Linked DNA regions of Homo sapiens. The protein of the gene in region 1 interacts with the protein of each later gene in a pairwise test. Each region holds a gene or a part of one and is shown on either strand. Other genes may lie near its edges.

The links.
Region 2: the proteins of SLC15A4 (region 1) and TASL interact in binary tests that used the Homo sapiens proteins (3 or more experiments, as listed by UniProt).
Region 3: the proteins of SLC15A4 (region 1) and GLP1R interact in a protein complementation assay, tested with the Homo sapiens proteins (2 studies listed by BioGRID).

The regions. Positions count from the first base shown.
Region 1 is NC_000012.12:128,820,940-128,828,329, reverse strand, and holds the start of SLC15A4 (solute carrier family 15 member 4), read left to right. Parts: upstream 1-4,371; 5' UTR 4,372-4,386; coding exon 4,387-4,932; coding exon of another isoform or gene 4,933-5,082; intron 5,083-7,390. UniProt on the Homo sapiens protein: Proton-coupled amino-acid transporter that mediates the transmembrane transport of L-histidine and some di- and tripeptides from inside the lysosome to the cytosol, and plays a key role in innate immune response.
Region 2 is NC_000023.11:30,574,753-30,581,793, forward strand, and holds the start of TASL (TLR adapter interacting with SLC15A4 on the lysosome), read right to left. Parts: upstream 3,015-7,041; 5' UTR 2,886-3,014; intron 2,115-2,885; 5' UTR 2,000-2,114; intron 1-1,999. UniProt on the Homo sapiens protein: Innate immune adapter that mediates the recruitment and activation of IRF5 downstream of endolysosomal toll-like receptors TLR7, TLR8 and TLR9.
Region 3 is NC_000006.12:39,051,769-39,058,794, reverse strand, and holds part of GLP1R (glucagon-like peptide 1 receptor precursor), read right to left. Parts: intron 2,399-7,026; coding exon 2,302-2,398; intron 1,324-2,301; coding exon 1,216-1,323; intron 1-1,215.

The DNA.
Region 1 (7,390 bases):
ATGCTGTCCAATACGGTAGCCACTAGCCACAAACCACTTGCAATATGGCTAGTGTAACTGAGGAACAGAATTTTTCATTTTATTTAATTTTAACTAGTTTCAATAGCCACACATAGCTAGTGGCTCCTGCGCTGGACTATGCAGATATGGAGAATTTTCTCTATGATAACAAAAATAAGACAATAGTGAGTGGGGAGGGTTTAGGAAAGCTAGAAAGTGTCTGCCATCTAAAGACAGTGGCTGCTGCTGAGTGTCAGCAGATTGTGGCTACAGGGGGAAGCAAATGTGTTTCCATTACCTGTTGCTACATAATAAACTGCCCCAGAATTTAGTGGCTTAAAAGAACAACCATGTTATTTGTTTACAATTCTGCTATCTGGGTTGAGGCTCAGCTGTGTGGTTCTTCTGCTGGTCTTCACATGGCTGCATTCAGTAGGCAGGTCATCTGGAATGCTGAGAATCCCCTCTCCACATAGTTGCAGACTCCTCCTCAACATATGATGGAAGGCAGGTGGACGTCTAATATGATGGCTCCGGACACCCCAGTCATGAAAGTGGAAGGTGTCAGACTTTAAGCCTGTGCCCAGACCAGGCCCAGAGACACTTTTGATGTATTCTCTTGGTCAAAACAGGTCACAGGACAGGCCCTGTGGTGTGATCTCTGAGGAATACATAAAGGCTTGAATACTATGGGGCATGGTTCAAAGTGATGGGATCATACTAATGTAACAGGTAATCACAAGTCCAGCATTGCCAGAGCTCACATTTATTTTCCCCAAATAGCAAGGCATCCAAATTTATATGTGAAACCTTTCAAACTGTAACTATTAGTTCACTTTCTTTTGGTACCAGCTTTATGGAGACATATTCGCATACCATATAATTCACTTATATAAACTGTAGAATTCAGTGGTTTTTTAGTACATTCACAGAGATGTGCACCAATCTTCCCCTCCCCTCCCCCAGTATCAGGAAACTGTACTAATCTGCATTGTCTGTATGGATTTGCCTATTGCCTATTCTGGCCATTGCATATAAATGTGATCTTGCCAGATGTGGTCTTGGCTCACTTTTTTGTTTTTTTAAACTTAGCTTTAGTTTTCTCAAATGAGGCAATGCAATCGGATTAGTTTACTATCATTCAAAAATGGCAGAGTGTATTGAGCACTGTTTGGACACTGGGTTATCACATGATTCAAATCATTTGCTTTGCTTTCATTCCATGTTTAATGTTAATTTTACTCTAGACTTTGCCTGAGCGTCAAACCTATCAGTCTTAGAAAAAATACTCAAAGATTCTGTCTCCTCTACCAACTGCAAAGTGGAAGCAGCACTGGACTCATAATTAGATATAAGCCTTTCATTGAAGTCTGAGTTCTATTGCTTTCTTTTTTATTTTTTATTTTGAGACAGTTTCGCTCTATCACCCAGGCTGGAGTGCAGTGGCGTGATCTCGGCTCACTGCAACTCCACCTCCCAGGCTCAAGCGATTCTCCTGCCTGAGCCTCTTGAGTAGCTGGGATTACAGGTGCGCAACACTACCGCCTGGCTAATTTTTGTAATTTTAGTAGAGATGGGGTTTCACCATGTTGGCCCGGCTGGTCTTTAACTCCTGACTTCAAGTGATCTGCCTGCCTTGGCCTCCCAAAGTGCTGAGATTACAGGCATGAGCCACTGTGCCACTGCACTCCAGCCTGGGTTACAAGAGCGAAACTCCATCTCAAAAAGAAAAAAAAAAAATGGCACATATGTGTGTGTGTGTGTCTATATGTACATGTTCAAGGACATATATTAGTATCCAATAATAAGTTAAAATACTAATATATGCCCTTGAACATGTATAGACACATATATATACACATGTATACATGCACACATATACACACACTTATATACACACATATATACATATATACACACAGATATACATATGTGTATACACACACATATATGAGAACATAAGGTGACTTGCATCATTTACATTCAACAAATGGTCAGTCATTCACTCATCCAGTTCAATCTAATACCTATTTATCATTGGCAAGTGCTGTGCCAGCCTCTAGAACTACAATCGTGGTTAAAACAAAGATCCCGGCCATCCCAGCTTTGAAGACAGGCATTCAATAGTTGCACAAAATAAGTATAAATTATAACCGGTGCTGTGGGAAAAAAGTATAGGGAGTTCCAAGGCCATAAAAACGGGGAGCTAACCTAGTGTGGCAGGGTTAGGAAAGTGATATTTGAGCTGACAGCTGGAAATGACAAGCATCAACAGACAGGTGGCAAAGGTCCAATTCGGGCATTCAATTATTCTCTCCTTAGACATTGATTAAATATATATTGCCTGCTGTGTGGCAGCACTGTGCTGACCATCAGTCTATCTGTCGGACATTTAAAAAAGTTTTTTAAAAAGAGAATGCATGCAACTTCAAGACTTACTGGCAGGATTACTTCTCCAGATGACCTACTGGCAAGCCAACTTCCCAGCTACTGGCTCCACCCTCATCTTAGCTGGAGGGAATGATGAAGGAAGAGGAGGTGGTCTTACACTAATTGAATCATTGCAGCAGCTGTGGATCACGATTCCTTTCTTTCTTGCCTTTTTTTTTTTTTTTTTTTGAGACAGGGTCTCACTATGTCACCCAGGCTGGAGTGCAGTGATGCCCTCACTGCTGAATGCAGCCTCTACCTCCCGGGCTCAAGCAATCCTCTTGCCTCAGCCTCCCAAAGTGCTGAGATTATAGGCGTGAGCCATCATCCCAGGCCGGGGTCTCAATTTCTTTTTTTTTTGTCTTTTTTTTTTTTTTTGAGACGAAGTCTCACTCTGTCACCAGGCCGGAATGCAGTGGCACAATCTCGGCTCACTGCAACCTCTGCCTCCCTGGTTCAAGCGATTCTCCTGCCTCAGCCTCCTGAGTAGCTGGGACTACAGGCGCCTGCCACCACGCCCAGCTAATTTTTGTATTTTTAGTAGAGACGGGGTTTCACCATGTTGGCCAGGATGGTATCGATCTCTTGACCTCGTGATCCGTCCGCCTCGGCCTCCCAAAGTGCTGGGATTGTAGACGTGAGCCACCATCCCAGGCCGGGGTCTCAATTTCTGAAGCCATGCTGAGGGCCATTTTTGGGCGGCACTCTTTCACTCCACTATGTGCCAGGCGCTGTCCCAGAGGCAGGGGGCACAGTGAGGAACAAAACACAAGAGAATCCTGCCATCAGGAAGCTTACACCTGTTAACACATGCAGGTTGGGGAGATAAACGAATAAATTAAAAAATGTAACAGGTAATAAGGAGAAAAGAGTAACATGATGGAATGGGATACTCGGGCCTTGGACAGGCTAGTGAAAAAAATGTTTCTCTGAAGTCAACACTTCGGTGGAAGGTTGAAGGATGAGAAGCCAGCCATGCAACCATAGATGGTGTAGGGGCAGTCTCTGGGAAAGCCTGAAACAGGCTGGAGCTTGCCTTGTTCTAAGCCAGTGAGTCTCAATGGGGGCGTATTTGCCCCCAGGAGTCCTTCGGCAAAGTCTAGAAGACATTTTCGGTTGTTAACCTGAGGTGCTAGGGGGTGGAACTGGCCCCTAGTGGATAGCAGAGGCCAAAGCTGCTGCTGAACATCGTGCAACGCACAGGACAGTCCCGTCGCTCAAAGTGCCAACGATGCACGGGTTGAGAAACCGGGTCCTCTCCAGGACTGAAGCCCAGGGCAGGGAGCACGGGGGCAGCCTGAGCAAACCCGCCTGGAGAGCAGCCGCCGTCTCAGTGTGAGTTTTGGCTGCCTACTGGGCCCCACCGAAGCCCGAAGAGGGCCAGGCTCCGGCTTCTTTGTTTAAACTCCCTTAGTCCGACTGCCTGCAGTGGCTCATGCACGTAATTCCAACACTATGGGAGGCTGAGACGTGAGGAACGCTTGATGCCAGGAGTTCGAGACCAACCTGAGCAACAAAGCGAGACCCCATTTCAAAAAACTGTTTAAAAATTAGCCACAGGCAGCGGCGAGCGCCTGCGGTCCCAGCTACCCGGGAGGCTGAGGTGGGAGGGCCGCTTGATCCTGGGAAGCTGAGGCTGCAGTGAGGCGTAACCGCATGACTGCGCTCCAGCCTGGGCGAGAGAGGGAAACCCTGTCTCAAAAAGGCAAACAAAGGCTCTCGGCCGCCAAGCTGCGGAATCCCAAGCTCCCCAAGACACGCAGTGATCCAGAATACCGGCCACCTCCTCGCCTAGTGCCCGGGGCGGGGCCGGAAGTTCCGGCGAGTGGGGCGTTGAGCAGCGGCGAGCCCGCCCAATAGGGACATCTCAGGCCCGGCAGTCTCGCGAGAAGGGCGGCGGCCCTGGGTTCTGGGACAGGTGACCCGGCGGCGGGGCGAGGCAGCTGGCGGCGTCGCATGGAGGGCTCTGGGGGCGGTGCGGGCGAGCGGGCGCCGCTGCTGGGCGCGCGGCGGGCGGCGGCGGCCGCGGCGGCGGCTGGGGCGTTCGCGGGCCGGCGCGCGGCGTGCGGGGCCGTGCTGCTGACGGAGCTGCTGGAGCGCGCCGCTTTCTACGGCATCACGTCCAACCTGGTGCTATTCCTGAACGGGGCGCCGTTCTGCTGGGAGGGCGCGCAGGCCAGCGAGGCGCTGCTGCTCTTCATGGGCCTCACCTACCTGGGCTCGCCGTTCGGAGGCTGGCTGGCCGACGCGCGGCTGGGCCGGGCGCGCGCCATCCTGCTGAGCCTGGCGCTCTACCTGCTGGGCATGCTGGCCTTCCCGCTGCTGGCCGCGCCCGCCACGCGAGCCGCGCTCTGCGGTTCCGCGCGCCTGCTCAACTGCACGGCGCCTGGTCCCGACGCCGCCGCCCGCTGCTGCTCACCGGCCACCTTCGCGGGGCTGGTGCTGGTGGGCCTGGGCGTGGCCACCGTCAAGGCCAACATCACGCCCTTCGGCGCCGACCAGGTGAGCCGCGCCCCCGCGCGCTGTCCCTGTCCCTGTCCAGCCCCTGCCCAGCCCCAGCCTCTTCCCCTGCCCCAGTCCCTGCCTCTGACCGCGGAGGGAGCCCCTTGCCCCGGGGGGCTTCTGTCTAGTGCCGAGGAATCCCGCCAGCAGGTGGGCCAAGACTGGAGGTACCGGTGTGATGGGTGCTGGAAGGGGTTTGCCTGGGGCGGGGTGAGGTCTACACACACAGTGATGGCCACAGTGGCTTTAAAGAAAAGAGAGGCCGGGCGCGGTGGCTCACGCCTGTAATTCCAGCACTTTGGGAGGCCGAGGCGGGAGGATCTCTTGAGCCCAGGACTTTGAGACCAGGTTGGGCAACACAGTGAGACCTCATCTCTACCAAAATTTAAAAATTTGCCCTCCGTGGAGGCGCACACCTGTAGTCCTAGCAGAGAAAGGAGGATTCCTTGAGCCTACGAGTTTCGGAGGCTGCAGTGAGCTAGGGTCACACCAGTGCACTCTAGCTTGGGTAACAGAGTGAGACCCCACCTCAAAAAAATAAATAAATAAAATTTAAAAAATACGCTGAGCGCAGTGGCTCACGCCTGTAATCCCAACACTTTGGGAGGCCGAGGTGGGTGGATCACCTAAGGTCAGGAGTTCGAGACCAGCCTGACCAGCCTGGCTAAAAATACAAAAATTAGCCGAGCGTGGTGGCGGGCACCTGTTCTCTCAGCTAGTCGGGAGGCTGAGGCAGGAGAATCGCTTGCACCCGGGAGGCAGAGGTGCGATGAGCCGAGATCGCGCCACTCCACTCCTCCAGCCTGAGCGACAGAGCGAGACTCTGTCTCCAAATAAAAATAAATAAATAAATAAAAAATAAATGAACGGGACCCTTCTATGTTCAGGCCCTGTAAGTTCAGACCAGAAGGCTAGGAAAGAGCAGTTGTTTGAGGAGCTTTCCAGACATGGGGATTCGCAGGTGCAGGGCCCTGGGCCAGGAAGCTGAGGGAAGGGGAAGCCCCCGTTGTTGCCTTAGCTTCCTTTACAAAGAAGTGGGAAAACACTCATATTGCGTCTTCGTGGCTTTAAAGGAGTTACGGGCTAGGTTGGGTCGGAAAGCTCAGATGAAAATGAGTTTGAATCAAGTTAGCATCAAGCTGCTCCCCTGCAACTGTAACTGCCAAGAAGTGAGGGAGGAACCACTGCAGCTCTTCAGGAGGGGCAAGGACGTGGCCACCAAGTATTATATGCAGAATAGGCCGCCTTTAAGAGCAATAGCAAAGTCAGATCGTTTCAGAAAATATAAAAAAAAGTGGGAAGTGAGGTGGAAGGCTGGGGCCGGATCATGTGAGGAGTGTTAAAGCGTTGGGGATACAGTCGAGAGCTTTACTGGGTTCCAGCAGGGAGTGATTTGTGCAGAGCAGGCACTACAGCTGGGGTAGCAGGTCAGGTCTGCTTCTTATTTTCTGAGGATTCACAAGCTAAGAATGGTTCTTAATATTTTCTTTCTTTCTTTTTTTTTTTTTTTTTTGAGGCGGAGTCTCGCTCTGTTGCCAGGTTGGAGTGCAGTGGCGCGATCTCAGCTCACTGCAACCTTCACCTCCTGAGTTCAAGCGATTCTCCTGCCTCGGCCTCCTGAGTAGTTGAGACTACACGTGCACGCCACTGTGCCCAGCTAACTTTTGTATTTCTAGTAGAGACGGGGTTTCACCGTGTTGGCCAGGATGGTCTTGATCTCTTGACCTTGTGATCTGCCTGCCTCGGCCTCCCAAAGTGCTGGGGTTACAGGCATGAGCCACGGCGCCCAGCTAGTTCTTACATTTTTAAGTGGTCGGAAACGGGATCATTTGTGACCAGTGAAAATTTTATGAAAATCAAATTTCAATCTCCATAAATAAAGCGTTATTGGAACATAGCCCCACCTGTTTCTGCAACACAGCCACTACACTGGGGCTGCTTTCACTAAGCAGTGGCAGAATTGAGTAACTGTGATGGAGACGAGATGTCTCATAGAACTCAAAATGTGAACTGCCTGCCCCTTCACAGAAGTGTGCGGATGCTTGTAGAGAATGGGTTGTGTAGGAAGTGGTGACATTAGGGACATGAGGTGGGAGTCTCTCCTAACTAGAGTGGAGGCAGTGGAGGTGGGTGAAGTGGATGGATGGAGTTCAGCTATGGAAGTAGAATGGGCAGGAAGTACTGGCAGGTTGTCTCCCTGTTTGTGTTCCTATGTAGGAATACCTGAGGCTCAGTCATCTATAATGGAAAGATGTTTCTTTGGTTTAGGGTTCTGCAGGCTGTACAAGAAGCAGGGCGCCAGCATCTGCACTGCTGAGGGCCTTGTGAATGGGAGCCAGCTGTGTAGAGATCACATGCACTAGAGGAAGTGAGAGAGGGGAGGGAGGTGCCAGGCTTGTAAACGACCTCTCTCATAGGAGAGTTCACTCCTGTGACAGCCCCAAGCCTTTCTTCAGGG
Region 2 (7,041 bases), on another chromosome or scaffold:
TACATCTAAAGACACATCTTATTTTAGTAAATCATTTCTCTTGAGGGGCACTGAGATTAGTCTTGCTTTTCCACTATGTGTAATTATTGCATATGCCTCCGTGAGTATTTCCACAGGCCAGATTTGGAGGAGCAGAATTACCAGATCAAAGCTATTGCCAAATTTCCTTTCAAGTAGCTTGGATCAATTTATTCTCTCACCAGCAATGTTTGAGATTGTTTTCATTGACATTCCTTAGCACATTATTTTTTTTTAATTTTCCAATCAAATGAGCTAATTTATGTTTGTCTCAAATTAGAGAGTCTTGTTAAAATCATATGTAGGTCATGTGTTATTTTTTAATGCCTGCAAAACTCAAAATCCTGTATTTCATCTCTTTACCTCTATATTATATTACCCTATAATATAAATTCTAAATCCCATAATTCCATTGTAAACTTTTTAAGACTTTCTTGGTGTGGGGGACTTGCAGGTAAATTGCTGAAAAGTGATCACTGAAAAACTTGAATATTGTTTTGTTCATGATTTAATTATGATAATGTAACCAAATCTGTATTACATGTTCCAGTTTTTTTTCAGTGAATGATGCTAGACCTTTACCTAAACAAAAAGCTTCTTTAGGAAGGACCTCCCTGTATAAAATAGCATCTGCAGTTTCCTTACTCTTATCTTTAAAAATACCTGTTCCTTAGAGCTGGAAATAATCACTTAATCACATACCTTAGATTATATCCCTATTATTTCAGCTTGTATTGAATTTATTGATGAATGCTCTAAAATATTGCTCATTAATATTTCAATTTCTGTTACAAATCATATAATTTGGGATTATCTATTCTTGTATCAAATATGAAGTGATTCTTAACAAATTAATTTCTGAAAGTATAACTTTATGGCTAAGATAATACAATCATAAATCAAAAGCCCTCTCTTCTTCATATTAATATTACCAAGTAAATAAATAATTTTTTGTTTGGTTCTGCTTAGATTCTTATGACCAAAGTTAATGGCTACTTCCAAGGACGATCTGATGTGTGAATTTTCTTAGTTCAGAAAATGTAAACTTTGGTGCAGAAATATTAGTAAATATATTTTATCATAGTTTGGATTTTTCTTTATACTCCTTCTTGATATAAATTGAAAAATTAAACCTTTTGGATCATTTTTTGAATCACTTTCAATGTATTTTGATGCAAAATGAGAGGACTAAAAAAATAAGAAACCTATCATAATAGTATTGTACTGATATAAATTTCTTTGGTGTTATAATTGTTAATCATTGTTAATCATGTTAATTATGCCAATTTCATTAACATTTACTTAATTGTAGGCATGTCAACTACAAATGCAATGCAAGATTCTTGATTGGATCCTGGATTTAAAACATAAAAAGATTCTAAAGGACATGTGGATAATTAGGAAAATTTGAATGTGTATCACATCTTAGATAATAGTATTGTGTTGATGTTATGTTTCCGTGGTGTTGTAATGTGTTATAGAAGACTGCCTTTATTTTTAGGAGATACATGCTCAAGAATTTAGGGGTGACATGTGTCCTAAAGTCAGCAACATACTTTCAAACCATTCAGGGAAAAAACTGTGCATATGTGCATGCGTGTGTGTGAATATATATATACACATATAGAGAGAGAGAAAAGGACAGGCAGAGACAGAGAAAGACAAAGCGAGAGAGAAAGTAAATGTGGCAAAAAGATACCACTGATTAATACACATGATGAAAATATGGGTGTTCGTTGTACTATTCTTTCAATTTTTATATAGATTTGAAACATTTCTAAATAAAAATTGGGAGGGGGAAAAAACCATATTTAGTTAATGAAGGCATATTTACATTGTATAATGTTTATTAAGAGCCTAGAGGGACAATATCTTATATATCTAAAATAATCACTACATATGAGATGAGAAATGTCTCAGTGACTTGATATAAATACTTCAAACATCATTTTGCTCTGAGATAATAGAATTAGTGTACTACCTTTGAATATCTCCAAAATTCCACTTATGATATGGATGTTTGACACAGACTTCAAATACTCTTCAATCCTCCAGAAGCTTCTCAAGCTCAGAAACAATCTTCTTCTCACACTGACCTATGCAAGAAATGTTATAAAATATCAATATAAATATTCTGTCCAAACCAGGTCTATATTTAAGCACAGATTCATATGCGCAAGACAAAGAATGTTTGAGCGAGTCTAAAGATAATTCAAACAAAACTCCACTCGTACATGCGCTATCTTTAATACCAAAAGGGAAGCTTTCCCCAAATCACCCAGATGAAAGTCGAAAAGCATCCTCACTATAGATCGCATTCATTTTGAATACATCCTGCCACACAGAAAAACACTATCACAAGCTTGCTGAACTGAATAATTGAGAGTCAAATCCAATTGGAAAGGACTGTGATTGTTTTCGTCTCTAAAACTGCATCACCGTAACTGAATTCAAGAGCTGTGTTGTCCCTGCAAAACCCTGCTTAGGTTTTTAGGCCTTCTTTTAAAAATGCAGAAGCTAAACCAGTGTGGCAATTAGTGAAAGAGGACTGCAAAAATAACACAATAAATATTTGCTCAGATCAGTCAAAAATTGTAGGTAAAAATATAAGTGTTTTAGAAATGCTTAGAATGTGGACACGAGGAGGTAAGGAAAGGAAGTATTGGGCTTAATTTCTCTTTATTTTTCAACTCCACTGAATGCTTGTTTAAACTCCCACTTGTCTCTGATATGGTAAGCTAGAAAAGCATTTTAGATGTCATAAGAATGGATCAGCGCTCTCGTGATAAAGGGCTAAGAAAGCGTGAGAAGACAGATGACAAAAAATAATAGCGGAGTTCTAGGGTCCTTTGCTTTCTTTTTCTTACCTTCACTAACCAATCTGCTCATCTGATCCGGCAGAAACACAGCAACTGACCAAACAGAGAGATGAACAAGCCAGCCAATGCTCTTTCCAGAAATTTTCACAAGCCTTTCACTGATGAGACCAGTAGACTGAGCTGCTCAGTGCAAAGCCATTCTTTTTATAATTGGTCCCATGGAAAAAGAGTTGTTTTTGTTCAAGTCCGATTTGTGCTAAAGAGGCAGTGGGAAGTCCCGGGAGGTGGGGAGGCAGTAACTGACAAAGCCACATCAAGCCACAGAATGGTGTTTCTTCCCCTTTTTCGAAAAATGAAACCTATCTACGAAACTGTCTCTTATTAAAATAGTTTATGGTTACACATTTTGTAAGAACCCTAGCAACAGAATTAAATTTCCTTTCTAGAAAAGTACATTATCTGGGATCCTTCACCCAAAAGAAAGCCAAAGTCACATATGACTTTAGGAAATTCTGTTTCGTTACTAATCTATAATTTTTAAGAAGTATTATTTCTCAATGGTACTTATAATTTTTAAAAATGTAAATGAAAAAAATTTTCTCGGCCGGGCGCAGTGGCTCACGCCTGTAATCCCAGCACTTTGGGAGGCCGAGGCAGGTGGATCAGGAGGTCAGGAAATCGAGACCATCCTGGCAAACACGGCGAAACCTCGTCTCTCCTAAAAATACAAAAAATTAGCCGGGCGCGGTGGCGGGCGCCTGTGGTCCCAGCTACTCGGGAGGCTGAGGCAGGAGAATGGCGTGAACCCGGGAAGTGGAGCTTGCAGTGAGCCGAGATCGCGCCACTGCACTCCAGCCTGGGCGACAGGGCGAGACTCCGTCTCAAAAGAAAAAAAAAAGAAAAAAGTTTTCCCTCTCCAAATACCGAAGGTCAAAACAATAATACATGGTGTGGGCAAAGTTGTGAAGAAACAAGCACTCTCAAACACTACTGATGAGATTGTAAACATATTTAGAGGGCAATTTCCCAGTATCTCTCAAATACAAATATTCATACCCTTTGACCCAACAATTGTATTTTTTATAAATTTGTCCAAGCTATATGTTTACACTTGTACACAAAGACTTATGTGAAAAGATATTTGTTGCAGCATTGCTTGAGAAAATAAATGACTAGAAAAAATTATATCCATAAATAAGATATTGGCCAAGTAAATGAGAACGTATGCATACTTAAAATCCTATGTAGGTTGTGTGCGGTGGCTCACGCCTGTAATCCTAGCACTTTGGGAGGCCGAGGCAGGTGGATCACTTGAGGTCAGAAGTTTGAGACCAGCCTGGCCAACATGGTGAAACCTTGTCTCTACTAAAAATACAAAACTTAGCCACGCGTGGTGGTGGGCACCTGTAATCCCAGCTACTCGGAGGCTGAGGCATGAGAATCCCTTGAACCCGAGAGGTGGAGGTCACAGTGAGCTGAGATTGTGCCACTGCACTCCAGCCAGGGTGACAGAGCGAGACTCCATCTCAAAAAAAAAAAAAAAGAAAAAAAAAGATCTCTAACATATATTGTTTAGCAAGAACTCATTTTCCAGTTTGTATTTTTAAGGAATATATGTATATACATGCTTATGTAATAGAATATTTCTTTTTAAAATTTTGTATTTTAATTTTTGTAGGTATACAGTAGGTGTATATATTTATGGGGTACATAAGATGTTTCGATACATGCATATGATGCATAATAATTACATCATGAAAAATGGGGTATCCATCCCCTCAAACATTTATCTTTTGTGTTACAAAAAATCTAATTATACTATTTTAGTTATACTAAAATGTAAAATTAAGTTATTATTCACTACAGTATCCCTGTTGTGCTATTAAATACTTTGTCTTATTCATTCTTTCTAACTAGTTTTTGCACCCATTAACCATCCCTACCTGCCCCACCAGCCCTCCACTACCCTTCCCAGCCTCTGGTAACCATGCTTCTACTCTCTATGTGCATGAGTTCAATTGTTTTGATTTTTAGATATCACAAATAAGTGAGAACATGTGATGTTTGACTTTCTGTTTCTGGCTTATTTCACTTAACATAATGACCTCTGGTTCCATCCATGTCGTTGCAAATGACAGGATCTTATTCTTTTTTGTGGCCGAATAGTACTCTATTGTGTATATGTATCACATTTTCTTTATCCATTTATCTGTTGATGGACACTGAAGTTGCTTCCAAATCTTAGCTATGGTGAACAGTGCTGCCACAAACATAGGAGTGCAGATATCTCTTCAATGTACTGATGTCCTTTCTTTTGGGTAGATACCCAGCAGTCCGATTGCTGGATCTTATGGTGGCTCAATTTTTAGTTTTTTGAGGAACCTCCAAAGTGTTCTCCATAGTGGTTGTACTAATTTACATTCCCACCAACAGTGTATGAGAGTTCCCTTTTCTCCCTATCCTCACCAGCATTTGTTATAGCCTTTCTAGAATATTTCTTTTTTTATGCTACACACAAGAAATCAGAAATAAGCAATTGTGTTTCAGGAACAAGACTCATTTTTCATTCTATACCCTTTTGAAATTTCTGTGTGTATGTATTACTTTTTCATTTTAAAAACTAGTATTCTTAAGTCATATTTAACTTTGATTGTACGGCCCAAATGTATTATAATCTATGTCTTTTCTGGAGGACAGACAAGTCTATCTGCAAATGGGTCAGTTCTTCTTGCCCAAAAGCAGAAAAATTAAGGGTTTCAAAATCATTTATCTGGTTTACCCTGACTGCTTCAAGTTAACCAACAAAGAATAAGCCTGCCCAAATCATAACTACTTCACTGTCTTTTTCTACCTAACTCCAATCAAAACTAAGTTCTATGGATACAAAAAACAAAACAAAACAAAACAAAGCAAAACAAAAAACAAAGCTAAGTTCCAAACTCTTAAGAGGTGAACATTTCCACTTAATGGGTTTGATTTTGTTTACTTTTGTTCAACGACTTATCTTAAAATGTCATATATTTTAAAGTATACTAGCATTTTTATTTTTGTTAGTCATGATTTTCTGCATTATTTTTTCATGAAACATTACTTAAATCCACTTTAGAAGGCATGCTCTCATGTATGAGCCATGATAAGGACAGTTTCTCAACTAGTCCTGAATCTGACTTGACCTACCATCACAGGAAACACCAGACTCATTGCCCCAGGGGCAAATTCAGTTACAGTGTAATCTTACAAAATCAGGTTCAGTGATGTCTTCAGGCATTTTTAGCTCATCAAGGATTTAGCTGTGATCAAGAGACCATAGCACCTGTAGGGCCAAACATTGATTTATTTCACTTTAGTGTTGCTTCATCCACAGTCATGAGACACCGTAGAGTAGGTCTTACCTACCTCCAGAAACACTTTATGGTGGGTTACCAAGAACTCGCCTGGAAGTACAATGAAATAACCATTGTGGGGTGATTCCATCTTCTCCACGTTGTCTTAAGTCACACTTACTGTTTTATTCAAATACAATATGCAGAATTTTGATTATGCCCACTCTTGATTTTGTCTCTAAAGTTACCCCTTTGATGGAAAAACCTCCTTTGCAGAAAAAAGATTCTGTAAGGAAAAAATGGGCACTATGCCAAGCTAACCTACTATTTCTACTATTTCTCATTTGATAAAACCTGAGCATACAAAATCAGCTTTAAACAGCTTTTTCTTTACTGGTTAAAATAAAATAGAATTATATCCCTTGTAGCTGAAATCTTATAATATGATTTTCTATTAATCTGCTGAATAGTAGGTAAAAGTTATTGCCTCGATATCTGTGCCTCTAAATGGACATTATTCCTATTATTCAATTACTTTTCCTGCTGTACAAAACACCCTCCAAGTTATTTCCATTATGATAGCATCCCTCCTAGCTCACTCTCAATCCTCACCAGGTTTCCTCCACCCTGGCTACCCTCTATTCACCTCATAGTGCTCCTAGTAGCACTCTAAATTCCACAACAATATGTCTTTCTGTCACATCCTACTTGCCAATTTCCAGTCCCATATAAAACCATTATTGCCTGGCCGGGCACGATGGCTCACACATGTAATCCCAGCACTTTGGGAGGCCAAGATGGGCTGATCACCTGAGGTCAGGAGTTCAAGACCAGCCTGGCCAACATAGTGAAACCCTGTCTCTACTAAAAATACAAAAATT
Region 3 (7,026 bases), on another chromosome or scaffold:
TTTCCTCATCTGTACAGCAGGTATAACCACAGGGTAGTTATAAAGCCCTGCTTTTAGGGCAGGACTTGGCACACAGTAGGTACTCAATAAATGCTGGCTATGATGACGATGATGATGGTGATGGTGATGATGATGATGATGATGATGATGATAGGGAAATATCTTTTCTCCCCTTATGGAGACTGGGAGCTCCTTGCCATGAGGGTGCTTGTCTCCTGTTATCCTCCACGGTGCCTGGGTGAAACTGGGCTCAGCAAGGGAGGCTGGGATAGATAGCGGGGCACATTAACTAACCCTCCAGTCAGGGATCCTCTTGCAGCCTCTGCAAATCTCTGTACCCCCAATGAAATGACCTTCCCACCTACCCAGTCACATCTTCCCCAGTACAAGGTCCCCCTTGCAGGCAGGAGTGAGCTGAGGAGGGCTGAGTCTGGTGGGGTTCGTCACCCCACCAATGCCCTGATCACTTCTCCCAGTGAACCTCTAAAGAGTGAGGAAGTAGCTAAATGTCACTGCCAGGTATGGGCCACCTGCATACACATATCATACATACATGTATACACACAGCAGACACCCTGGGTAGCTTCCCTCCCCGCAAGAGTCTGTCCCCACCCAGCTCTTTTCCTGACTACTGAATTGGAAGGGGTCGCATTTCTCTTCAGACACTTACTTTCCCTTCCCCACACACTGGCCAGCACTGGCCTCACGCCCAGACCCAGGTGGTACCTCAGGCCATCATGAAACTTATCACTACTGACTGCTCCCCTCACCCCAGGAAAGGCAGGCGGACCACTCACTAGGAGGCCTAAAGACATTCTGGGTGGGGAGGGCTGTGTCTCAGAGGAAAGGAAGCAGCGCCTTGACCTCAGCCTCCTCGATACAGGGGACGGTGGGGGAGGGAGCTCACCACTGCTGACCCAGGGCAGGTACCAGGTCAGGGAGGGGGCTCACCACTGCTGACCCACGGCAGGTACCAGGTTAGGGAGGGGGCTCACCACTGCTGACCCACGGCAGGTACCAGGTTAGGGAGGGGGCTCACCACTGCTGGCCCAGGGCAGGTACCAGGTCAGGGAGGGGGCTCACCACTGCTGGCCCAGGGCAGGTATCAGGTCGGGGAGGGGGCTCACCACTGCTGGCCCAGGGCAGATACCAGGTCGGGGAGGGGGTTCACCACTGCTGGCCCAGGGCAGGTACCAGGTCGGGGAGGGGGCTCACCACTGCTGGCCCAGGGCAGGTACCAGGGGCAGCTGACATTCACGAACGAGCCTGGCTCCCCATCTGGCCAGCAGGCGTATTCATCGAAGGTCCGGTTGCAGAACAAGTCTGGGAGCAGAAAGAACAGTCTCTGAGTCCCTGCTTGTGACTGGCCATGGCCCTTTCCCTCCCTTCCCCAAGACCCCTCCCCTCCTCGGAGGCTGCATGCCACTAACCTCTGCTGAATGCTTACTGTATGCCAAGCACTTTCCCCACCCAGCAAGAGCCAAGCAGGGGCACTTGCCACTTATCAGTGGCAGGACCTTGAGCAAGTAACTTAATGTCTGTTTCCTGATCTGTAAAACAGGAGTATTTCCAGCCCCATAGGGTTTTGTGGGATCAAGACTATATGCTACATAGATAATGGAACATAGTACGTGCTCAATGAAAAATCCCTATGGGCCTATTCTTAAATTGCACTTCACAGATTAGAGGGAAATGTTAGCTTACCTTCCTTCTGATCTCACTTAAGATAACCTTCTTTAGGTCACGTGTTATAATTACAGTCAGGATTTCAACCTAGGCCCAGCGGGCTCCAATCCCGTGCTCTTTAAACCACCTTGTGAACTCCCTGAAACATTTATTCCTATAAATATGTTTGTGGAGCCCTCAGTCCATGCACAGGCTGGGAGGTGCTGAGGACAAAAATGGAAAGGCCGGGTGCCTGCTCTGAGAGGCTCTAGCTGGGGGGCTGGCCGGCGGTGCAGGGAAGGACACACAGATAAGACAGCTAAGACAGAAATAAGACAGCAACCCCAAAGCAGACTACAGCAAACGAGTAAGGGCCAAATGATGGCAGAAGTCCTGGGGAAGATTTTCTGGAGGAGGCAGTGCTTCCGCGGACTTTGAAGAAAAGGAAGATTTTGGTCGGCAGAAAGGAAGGTATCCAGGTGAAGGAGTAGCTTGGACAATGAGATGAAGGCAGAGGGCAGGGGTGGCATCCTATAGAGGCAAATGGCTCCCAGCCATGGACATTGAGTTCATCAAAGTCCTCCAGAAGTTGGTTGGGTGGGGAGCACTAAAGGTGGGGAGCCTACATGGACTCACCTGTGGCAGGAGGTGGATCCTCAGTCAGGGAGCGCTGGCACTGGCGTCGGTATTCTCGCCATTTCTGCACCGTCTCCCAGAGGGACACAGTGGCACCCTGGGGGGAGGGCATATATGGGAGGCCTGTGGGTTCAGCCAGCCCCTCTCCTGCCCCCTCACCCCCTAACACACTTGGTTTCTCAATCTCCATGAAACCTCAAAGCCCCAAATTCTGCCAGGCATCAGCCACCTCTGAAAGAGAGTGAGAATAAGTCACTGCCACCCAGGGGCCCCAGGTGGATGGTTTGACATCTTCATTCCTCCCAGGGTGCATAGCTTGATGTGTCACGAGCACCCAGCAAATGTCTGCTAAATTGATGCTTTTGGGGAGGTGGGTGGGTGAAGGAGGAAAGGAGCGTGTGTGTCTCATTTGTGATCTCTGATCTCACTTAGGAGAGAGACTTTCTGAGGGCCCAGGACTCTAAGCTCCTTCTGGCGCCTAGTCAGCCTGCCTGAGGGCTTCTTGCACTTTCAACCATTCTAGAAGAAGACACACAGGCCAGAGTGGGAGAGGAACTGAATCAAGGGTGCACAGCCCCCCCAGGAAGCAGAGTTAAGGCTAGAATCTGGAGTCCTTCAGATCAGTGACCATGGTAGAATATCGCAAGGTGTGCGGGGGCCGGGGAGAGTAGTGGCGTTCAGGGCTACAAAGAGCTGGGATGTCTGCCATTAGCATTCCTCCTCCAAAACGCACTCACTTACAGATGCACTCAACACAGCACCCCCCACCCCCTCCCCGTGCTCCCCTCTGACACAGCAACCAAATCTAATATTCAACCCAGCTTCTATCCACCCAAAGGAAGAGTCCTGAGGACATGAGGTGAAGGGGTCAGGGAGGTTCCAGAACACTGAAGTCACACGTGCAATGGGAGGGATCCCTCTCACCTGTGAGTAGGGAGAGCTGAGCCTCCACTTCCAGTGAGGTCACCGAAATGGCTTTTCAGCACACAGACCCAAACAGACCCATCCCACTGAGAATCCACCATTCCTTCTGAGTGTTTTTGTGCACTTCCTTCAGCTATGTCTTGGGGTTGTCGTTCTTTTTAGTTTTTTCCTGAACAGCCTTAAAAATTATAAATATTCGTCCTTCAGAGGCTGCAGATGCTGAAATGACCCAAGAGCCCCATGTATAAAATGTAGGACCCATACATAATTTAAAACAACATTTTGCTTTTTGAAATCACAAAAATGTCCACGTGTGCTGAAATTAAAATAGCTTCTTTTTAGAAGCTTGCCCCCTTGCCTTGTAGCGTGCTGGGCACATGCTGGATCCAGTCTCGGGTTCTAGCTGGCTTATCACACACCTCCCTGAGAGACTTGGGTTGCCTTGCTCACCCCTTGCTGCCTCGGAGGCCCCATGGAAGGGCCCAGCTCACTTTAAGCCCCAGCAGCATCCTTGGCATAAGTGTGCCAAGGCGGCAGGGGCTACCCTGAAGGACAGAGCTCTTCTGAGGGCAAAGGTCAACTGTATTTGCTTGGGGAAAAAAAGAACAAGAAATCAAACATAACAGCTGCAAAGGTGTTGTCCATGATATTAGCCACAGCTGAGGAGGTGGCACAGTTTTCATCAGAGCAAGTCCTGGTGGATCAACCCCCACCGCCCCGTTTCCCTTCTCACTTCTTCCCTCTTCTCCGGGTAAAGGGCTCTTCCATGCTGCCCCTAAATGCAGCAGCTGCTGGGGGTGGAGGGCAGAGAGACGGAGAAATCCCCCTTGGTTTCTGTTTCTAGAATGAAAGCAGACCACACACAAGGTCACTGCTGGGAACTGGGGCAGAAGGTGTGTCTGGGGCAGGCAGAGAGGTATGGAAGCCAGTTCTTCCCAGAGGCGGGGGGAGGGGTTAACGACAGCGCCATGAAGGCCAATCTGGCCTCCTGCACCCCAGGGCAGCGCTGTCACCTACTCTGAGCAGAGCTGTGGACATAAAACTATATTCAGACTGGGGCTCCCTGAGGACGGGGCTGTGTCTCCCCTCAGACTGGAGCTTCCTGAGGATGGGGCTGTGGCTCCCCCTTAGGTGAGGGATTCCTGACAGTAAGAGTATCTTGTCCCCTCCCTACACCAGATCAGGGCTTCTAAATACCTTCGAGCCTTCATCCCACCCCTGCAGGCACACACAGTGCAAACTACCCAGACTTCTGGCCTCTCCCACGCCTCGTATTTACAGAAACCATAACTGTGCCAGGTTCTGGGTGGTCGTGGGTGGAGGGGAATGCAGGGAGTATAAAGGTGACTGCAGGAGCCCTGCCTGAGAGAGTCTTCAGGCTACTCGGGGGTCAATGCTTTACAGGACAAGTGACATAACAGGGAAGGCAGTGGGTGAAAGTGTTCAGGGAGTGGTTGGGGCAGGGTTCAGTGCAGACTCAAGAGGCCTGAGGGATTGGGGACTGTGAGGTGGGGCTGGGGTGAAGGGGGTTGGAGGCAGACTGGGCTAGCAAGGAGGAGGGCGGGCACTTCAGCAGGAGGGCACAGCAGGGAAAAGGTACAAAGGTGGGGACATCAGTGCTCCGGAGAGCAGAGGAGAGCTGTGGACTGTTATCAGGAGGATTTTTTGGGGCAGGGAGAGAGTGGTGGTGGGCCCTGGGACAGATGGGAGGTTCTGGTCTGGGGAAAGACTGAGTAAATGAGGCTAGGGCCACCCAGTGCCATAGGGCCTGGGTGCCCAGGTAACATAGTGGAGGCTGAACAACCCTGGCCTTGGGCTCAGATCTGGGCCTGGACCTGGGTCACCCAGATATTAGGTTTGCAACCGAGTGCAAGAGTTGTATGTTTTAGGCTCAGCTTACACTTGTGCAAAAGGGAACAGCAGCCCCTCCCCCATGGGATGGCTGTGGGGACTGAGTTAATGCTTAGGATGGTGGGCACATGGAGAAGGCTCAGTCAATGGCAGCAATCCCCATGATTTCTACTGTTTAGTGGAAAGGGCAGAGTGGGAGGGAGTGACCAGGCTTCCTGGGGACTGGGGCCCCACCCCTTCCTCACTTCTAGGATCAACATATTCCCAGAAAGAGGAAATGAATATATGTTCATGTCCAATGACCAATCATTCTGCTTAATTTGTGAGATCTTCCAGCAGTAACCACAGCCAATGGCAAAGTGAAGCAGGGAGGAAGCTTTGGACCCCATGCCCTGTGAGGAGGGGCAAGGCCCTGCCCACCAGTGTCCCCCACTCCTCCATTTCATCCTCCCACAACATAAGTCCCTGCTGCAAGCCTGACAAGGTGGGGCTGTGGGTTCTGGGTAGCGGGAAGGATGCAATCCAGATGTCCCTGTCCCTCACAAGGCAGCAGAGCTGACCAGGAGAGCAAAGCAGCGGTCAGAGGGGGTCTAAAGGGCCATGGGAAGGGCAGGATGGCAGTTTCTAGAATCAAGACTTGACAGGCTTCATGGGATCTCTCTGAGGTGGATGAAGGCACGTGGAGACGACACCTGGGTTGGAGGTTACAAGAAGGAAGGGGCATCCCTCAGATTCAGGAGTTTTTGGAGGAAGCAGGAGACAGGAAAGAGGACACCAGGAGGGAGTGGTGTGGTCTACAGGAAGGAGCACTGGACAGCGATTTATAAGTTCTTGGTCTAAATCCCAGCTCTGTTAATGCAGGACTGTGGGACACGATTTATCTTTTAGGACCTCAGTTTCCTCATCAGTTGCCAGTTCTGCCGTCCATAAAATGGGCATATCATTCTTCTCAAACTGCACAGATCCAACAAGATAAAGCAGGTGAAAATCTTTGTGACTTCTCAAGCCCTGTACAAGCAGGCAGCGTTGGAAGGAAGGACAGCAGAGAAGGAAGCAGGTGGAGTGGAAGCCCCCGGGGTGGTGGGCTTTCCAACACCCCAGGAAGGGGCTCCCTCTCCAAACACTGGCTGCCAATCTGAAAGGCACTCCTATTTCTCAGTGCGAATAAGTGTATCAGATTCTTTCTTTCTCTGGGGACCATTTTGGTGACGGGAAGGAGGTGGCACAGAGGTGGGAGACATGCAGGAAGGCCTCTCAGAAGGAGGAAGGAGGGATTCCAACTCAAATTTCTGGAGTCCCCCAACTAAGTCCAGCCCTTCAGGTTCCCTGGCATCTCCTCCCAGGACCCCAACCTCCTTCCTCTGTGTCACCTCCCAGAAGTCAAATCACCCCTTCCATCAACAGACCCCTGTCTCTTTGACCGCCCCTTGTTTTTCTTTCTTTCTTTCTTTTTTTTCAAAAGCTCAGAGCTTACAATCCATTTTTTTTCCCTAAGGGCTTTAGATATCTGAACGAAAGGACAGGAAAAGGAATACTACACACATGTTCTTACAGTCACAAAAACCCCCACGTGGACACACGGTCACACGCATCATCACACACGCCCCCAAGCACATTCCCAATACTGAGACACTGACACAGACTCTCTCCCACCACACACAATCACTCACAGACTGCCAGGTACACAGTCGCATGCTGAGACACTGTCCCCAACACACACACACAGAGGAACACACAGACACTCTCACATGCACACTATCTCTCCTGCACATATAGACACACACTAGTTGACACCCATTCACACACCAAGATGCCCCCCCCCCCACACACACACACAGACCCTCCCACAGACACAGTATCATATGCAGGGTCACAAAAACATAGACACTGTCAGATGTACAGTTGCATGCTGAGATGTTGCACACACAGGGACTCATTCCCACACAGACT